2 linked regions of the Homo sapiens genome follow. The protein of the gene in region 1 purifies or fractionates together with the protein of each later gene. This does not show direct contact. Each region holds a gene or a part of one and is shown in the gene's direction. Other genes may lie near its edges.

Region 1 (3,500 bases):
GAACATAATATAAAGGTAATTGTTTTACGTTTTGTTTCTTAAGGGAACTTTAAATTTTATAAAGGCCTTTTCATGTCTTTGTGCTTTTAAACTTTTAAATTTTTTTTTATCTCCATGATCTGCATCTAGAACTTAAAACAAATTTATTGCCGTCTATAACTGTATGTAGAGTTTTACACAACATATTCTAGTTCAGATTCTGTGGCAAAGGCCACTTTTTAGAAAAAAAAAAACCTGTCTTATGACCAGCGGAATTAAAATTCACATCTGTCCTGAGAAAATTTATCCACTCATTTTGTCCCATAGTGAATGAGAAAATTAAAATGGTTCAAGGTATAAAGTAAAGAAGCTGACTAAGGGTCAGTCAGCAATGAGAGGGACAGACAAGTATGGAAGGATCAGGCAACTGTTATAGGTAGTAAGGCAGTATAAGGAAGTCACCTTGGGCCAGGAGGATATTAAGTCAGACAGTGGGCCTGGAGTCTGGGGCAAGCAACAGGGATTCATTCCTATCAACAAATACTTGTAGATTTTGTCTGCCGTTTACTGGTTGTTGTGCTCTCTGTTGTGGAGGATATTGCAATGATTAAGGCAGGTTTCCTACCTTCATTTAAGTAGAGAATGTAAGACAAATGGCAGTAACCGTGAAGTAAGTTAGCATGTGATGAGTGTCATATGAATAGTACACACAAAGCATGATAGAAATTTAAGAAGGAGCAAGATCATTTTCACCTGGGATTAGGAAAAGTTTTATGAAGGAGGTGGTAATTGAGCTAGCTGGGTCTAAAAAGATCAGCGTTGCAGTAGGCAGAGTTGGAGGCATCTAGAAGAAGGCACTTTAAATCCTAAAGGGAGGAAGAGACAATGTACATTTGGAGCACTGATGGTTCCCGAACCAACAGCAACAGCATCATCTGGAAACTTGTCAGGCCCCACCCTGGAACAACTGAATCCAAAATTCTGGAGATGAGCCAAGCAGTCTTAAGTTTTATAGGTCTTCCAGGTAATTGTGATATAGGCTGAACTTTGAGAACCACTGTTTAGAGAATAGGAAGGAATGTGTAAAGTTGAGTCAAGCGTCTCTTAATGTACCTAGCACTAACTATATGTACTTAAGACATAATTGTTATCTACAAGGAAATTAATCAAGTAGGGTAAATAAGACAGTGATTATGCAGTGTGCTATGTGCTATTAACAGACTAAACATGGGATGCTGTAAGAGCACATGGCAGGGAAGAGGCTTAATCCACACTGGGGATGAATGTCACTTAAAGTTTCCTGGAAGAAATGGTGTCTGAACTGAGTCTTGAAAGGATGAGTATTTAGCCAGTGAGGAAGGGCACACCACATAGAGAGCTTCTGTTCGAAGTCATGGAAGCATGAGATATACAAGCCATCCAGAGAACTACAGTGTTAGTTTAGCGTGGCTGGAGAGGAAGGGGGTAGTGTCTGGTGGATTGACACTAGATCATAGAGGGATTTGCATATCATGAAGGAGTTAATCTTTTTTCTCCTAAAAGCAGTGGGAAGTTATTTTCAAGCAGGAGAATGACATTGTCTCATTTACTTTTTTAAAGAGACCATTCTGATGGCCGGGTGGATAATAGGATAGATGAATCTAGACATGAGGATTCAGAAATAATTATAGTAATTTATATGAGACAGAAGGATGTGAAAGAATACAGTAACAATGCAGATAGATAGTAGGGATCCTACAGGAGATACATTTAGGCGGTAGAAGAAAGAACTTGGTAACTATTGGATTATGGGGAAGAAAAGAGGTGGTGAATTCTGCTTTGGTTTCTGGCTTTGGATAATGCTATCCACCCAGCAAATATTTGTTGAGCACCTACTTGGTTAAGGTTAGGTTTTAGGAATACATGGGGAATACTGTTCCTGTCCTCGAGAAACTTCCAGTTTGCTGGGATGACTATTGTTTCATCTCTAGGCTTCTATTATTTGGTAATTAGTGCTTGGGATGCTATGTTGCAAGACTCCAATTTCAATAGGATAGAGTGCTGTGAAATATTAACAGTGCCTGCTACATACATGTCATGGCCTAGGAGAAACAGAAAGAACTTGATAGCCTGGAGGTAGAAAGAGGCACATGTGTTTGAACAGTGATTCTCAAGAAGTGGATCCTGGACTAGCAGCATCAGTATCATTTGGGACCTTGTTAGAAATGCACATTCTCCTAGGAGATGTAGGAGAAGAAGGTTTTGGGGGAGTGATGAGAATTTTTATTTTTGCACATGCTGAATTTAAAGGAATCATGGGTGGGCTAGGCACAGTGGCTCATCCCTACAATCCAAGCACTTTGGGAGGCCGAGGCAGATGGATCTTGGGCTCAAGAGTTCCAGACCAGCCTGGGCAACATGGTGAAAGCCCATCTGTACAAAAATACAAAAATTAGGCGGGCACAGTGGCACACGCCTGTAGTGCCAGCTACTCAGGAGGCAGAGGTGGGAGGATGGCTTGAGCTTGGGAGGTGGAGGTTGTGGTGAGCCAAGATTGTGTGACTGCACTCCAGCCTGGGTGACAGAGCAAGACTGTTTTGGGGGGCGGGAGGTGGGCAGGGAATAGTAATCTTGGGTTATCTAGGTGATTATGGCCAACAGGTAATTGGCTACCTATATCTGGAGCTCATAAGAGACATCTGGGGCTTGCATTAAAGATTTGAGCATTGTCTGTGCATTTATATTAGGTAGTAGTTGAAGCCGTGAAACTGGATGAAATCCTGTGTAGAGAGAATATAAAATGAGACGTGAAGAGAGTGAACTCTAAAGATGGTGCATGTAAAAAGGCAGGTAGAGGATGAGGAGCCTGTGAAGTTTGTCATTGAATAGCCAGAGAGATAGTTGGGAAATGAGCAGCATAGCATGATGCCAGATTGAAGGGAGTCTTAAAGAGGAAGGAGTCAGCAGTGAATAGATACTGCAGAGATCAAGAAAGAGAACTTAAAGATGTCTTTTGGAGATAACAGGAGAGTTTTGATGACTTGGTCAATAGTAGTTTGTTGTAATGGTGGCAAGGGAAGCCAGGAGGTAGTGAGACATTGAATTTAGATTGCTTTTTAAAGCTTTGAGTAGCAGAGAGGGTGAAAGCTAGAGAATTTAGTTTTGAGGAAGGATTTATCTTGGGGTTGAAAGAAAAAGTCAGAGCCGGGCACGGTGGCTCACTCCTGTAATCCCAGCACTTTGGGAGGCTGAGGCGGGCGGATCATGAGGTCGGGAGTTAGAGACCAGCCCGACCAATATGGTGAAACCCTGTCTCTACTAAAAATACAAAAATTAGCCGGGTTTGGTGACGCGTGCCTGTAATGCCAGCTACTTAGGAGGCTGAGGCAGGAGAATCACTTGAACCCGGGAGGCGGAGGTTGCAGGGAGCTGAGATTGTACCAGTGCACTCCAGCTTGGACGACAGAGCAAGACTCTGTCTCAAAAAAAAAAAAAAAAAAAAAAAAAGAAAGAAAGAAAAAGTCAGTAAAAAGGGTAAAAAG
Region 2 (3,500 bases), on another chromosome or scaffold:
TTATTGCATAATTGATACATTGCTTGAATGCTAGATTCCCCCCATCTACCCCCACATCTCATTTAACAAAGAAGTATAGAAACATCCTGGGGAGACAGTGTGGAGTGGACCTGGGAGTCTAGCATATGTGAGTTCTAGTCCCCGTTCTGCCACTTCCTGCCTTCTGTGATGCTGGGCTAGCTACTTGACATCTCTCTCCTAGCTTCTGTTCTGTAGAATGGGGGAAAACAATAGTTGCCACCCCCAGACACCATGTTGTGGAGATGTGTCTGGCTTATACTCAACTCAGTGACTGTATTGTAGCTATTAGCTCTTAGTAACAGAAAATTAGTTTTTAGTATTATATTTCTAAGATTTGTATGTCCCTGCCTCTTTAAGTATTTGGTTTGTATTAATACCTTTTGGTCTTGTTATATAATATTCTAGCTGTAAAAGCATTTCATCAATGAATTGAGGAAGTCTCTGATTTTAAATACTTTAATCAGTAAAATTTCAGAGAAAAATCTTTAAGACATTTGATTGGTAAGATGATAATACATGGCAGAACACACAAGCTTACTTTTTTTAATAGGCAAGAAGATGTGTGAAAACAGCCTTAAAAAAAAAAAGCCTAAGAATTCCAGTCTTTCAGCCTGGAATATGAACAAAGTTTCTTTAATAACAAAGAAAAAAATGACACCAAATGATCAATAACTTAGAGTTTACAAAAACTATCAGAGAGTAAAAGGGCCAGGGAAAATGCAGACACTGGTAGGGATGGTTCGGTGGAGGATGGAAACACTCATAAAATAATGGGCCCTACAGGTATTCTACAGGTTGAACCAGGCCCTTGAATGCATCTTGGGAACCAAAATGAAAAGTGAAACAACTCTGTGCCTCGTAAACCATGAAAAAACATAACAGGTACTCAAGGGAAGCACAGTATTTCCTGGCAAAATGTTGGAGTTGGGGGTAGTTTCCCGTAAAGTTGGATGGGAAGAGAGGACGCAGTGAAGCATGTCTTCATCAGGTTTAGAGCAAATGCCGCAGGAACCTTTCTTACAGGTCTCAGGGAAAGTGGAAAAAATAAATTGACAAATGGGGAGCTGAAATAATCTTACCTCGGTATGTTTTTTTGGGAGGAAGCTAACTGGAATATTAAGAAGCATGGAATTGGAATGCACATTCTTCCAGTCTTCTGCCCCCTTGGAATGTCTGATTTGAGCAAAGCAGCTTCCCACGGGATCTTCTTGATTACAAAATGGTATTTCTCAACACCTAAAAACCTTCTTGAAAGGCTTATTACCAAAATCTTTGGTTGTTGAAGTTAAACAATCATACAGTAATAATTAGATAGGACCAGTGTCCGCGAAGTCCTCCTAGCTTGTTTGCCGGGTGCGCTTTAGACGCACAGCTGCTCTGAGGGTACTTCTGATCAGAGTAACCCAGGGTGACCCAGCTATAAATTACACTCGAGGGTGGTTTGCCTTGTCTTGCTGGTAGAGCACCAGAATCTTGGTAAAAATGTGTTGGTGGGCTTAGCTTTTTTCTTTTTAAACTTGGAAGTTCAGAAATTGGTTTTTAATTAAAATCTTTTTTTGTTTGCTTATTATCTGTCTCTTCCCACCAGAGATAAAGCTCTCTTATTCGCGGGTGTGTCTCAAGATCGATATTTTACAATATAGTTTAGCACATAGCATATGCTCAATAAATATTTGAATATTTGTTGATTTAATGAATTTATTCATCGGGAATAGATTTTGCTATCTCTAGACATAAGAAGTTAGAAATTAACTCTGTAGTCTAAATAAGATAATTCTGTAGTGCAAGTGTGATGATTTTGAAGGATGTGGTTAAAAAGAAAATATTCTAAAAAATATTTTATTTTTTGATCTCGCTATGTTGCCCAGGTTGGTCTTGAACTTCTGGCCTCAAGTGATCCTACTGCCTTGGCCTGTTAAAGCACTGGGATTACAGGTGTGAGCCACCATTCCTAGCCTTGTTTTTCTTAAGTAGTTAAATAGTTAATATTATGTTGAAATTTTTCATCTTTGCTGCTGATTTTGGGATTATTTCTTAAGATAGATATTTTGACTGGGCTCTTTCTTAGACTTCCAAGTTAGGAATGGTAGAGGTGTCCTCTGCAAGGATTTGTCCAGTGCCTGCATTTTCCTGAATACTGCTGGAGAAGGGGCCATTCAGCCAGGGACTTTGCTCCTGGTAGGAACCAGCTATTGCTGTTGGTCTGCTTTAGTTTTTGTTTTCCTGTCTTGACCAAAACAGATAAATAAGATACACTTTGCTGAAGTGACAAGAGATACCATGCTTCCTCTTTAAAATTCTCATCCTTATTTACTCTGGAGTTTTAACGAGGATTATCGTCAGGCTCACTGATTTTTTACAGTCTAACATTTGTGGAAATTGTTCTGTCTCTAGACAGTCCTTTAGATTTCAGAAACAATCTTGACAATGATGACATCGCTAATACCCACCATCAACAGAGGTATAGGCTTTTTTTTTCCCCAGTGCCTGTTTCCCTTCCAGGTTGGGACATGAGGGTTAGTGTTTCCTGCCTCCTTTCCCTCTTTAACAGTGTATCCTTAAAGTCATAATGAATCTGATCTGCGGCATAAAAAAAGTAAGCACAATTGGATCGTTTTGGTTTTTCACCCATCATTAGCATTGTATTCAGGAGAGTGAGGAAATGCATTTTCTTCTCTCTCTTTTTTATTTTTTTGAGATGGAGTCTCCCTCTGTTGCCCAGGCTGGAGTGAGGTCGTACGATCTCGGCTCACTGCAACCTCCACCTCCCAGGTTCAAGCAATTCTCCTGGCTTAGCCTCCCGAGTAGCTGGAATTACAGGCACCTGCCACCACATCTGACTAATTTTTGTATTCTTAGTAGAGTTGGAGTTTCACCATGTTGGCCAGGCTGGTCTCAAACGCCTGACCTCAAGTGATAACACCTGCCTTGGCCTCCCAAAGAGCTGGGATTACAGGTGTGAGCAACTGTGCCCAGCCCTGCATTTTCTTTCTCAGTGAAACTAGGTGGTGGTTGGAGAAAGCTTGTCCTTAGAATTTGTTGGCAAGTTCCATTTAAATCTAGGCATTACCCTCCTGTAGCATATACCATGTGCATTGGCTCTCCTTAACTCTGAACTTATTTTATAGCCCAAATGGGCTCTTAACTTATTTATGTGTACTTGTACCCTCAGATTTTTGTTAAGGATTCTTGGAACTCATAGGTAGATCCAGGTTGTTTGTGGGGACGAAGTTTATACAATTTGGGGGTCCTCATTATGAAAAATATATAAATATCTTTTAAGTTTTACAAAAACCTATGGCCATGTGAACCCTTTTGAACTTGAAGACTTCTCCATACCTGTCATACAAGGTTCTTGTCAGGGAAAGTAGAGCTTAGTGGTTAAGAACATGGACTGTGGGAACTGGGTTGGATTCCTGGTTCTGCATCTTACTGTGAACTTTGGCAAGTGACTTAACCTGCCTGTCTTGTATGTAAAA

The links. Proteins that work in one complex are often made in the same cells at the same time.
Region 2: the proteins of PPP3R1 (region 1) and CNN3 purify together in Homo sapiens (co-immunoprecipitation; one large-scale study listed by IntAct). This does not show direct contact.

The regions. Positions count from the first base shown.
Region 1 is NC_000002.12:68,246,033-68,249,532, reverse strand, and holds part of PPP3R1 (calcineurin subunit B type 1), read left to right. Parts: intron 1-3,500. UniProt on the Homo sapiens protein: Regulatory subunit of calcineurin, a calcium-dependent, calmodulin stimulated protein phosphatase. Confers calcium sensitivity.
Region 2 is NC_000001.11:94,920,611-94,924,110, reverse strand, and holds part of CNN3 (calponin-3), read left to right. Parts: exon of another isoform or gene 1-1,243; intron 1,244-1,889; exon of another isoform or gene 1,890-3,500. UniProt on the Homo sapiens protein: Thin filament-associated protein that is implicated in the regulation and modulation of smooth muscle contraction. It is capable of binding to actin, calmodulin and tropomyosin. The interaction of calponin with actin inhibits the actomyosin Mg-ATPase activity.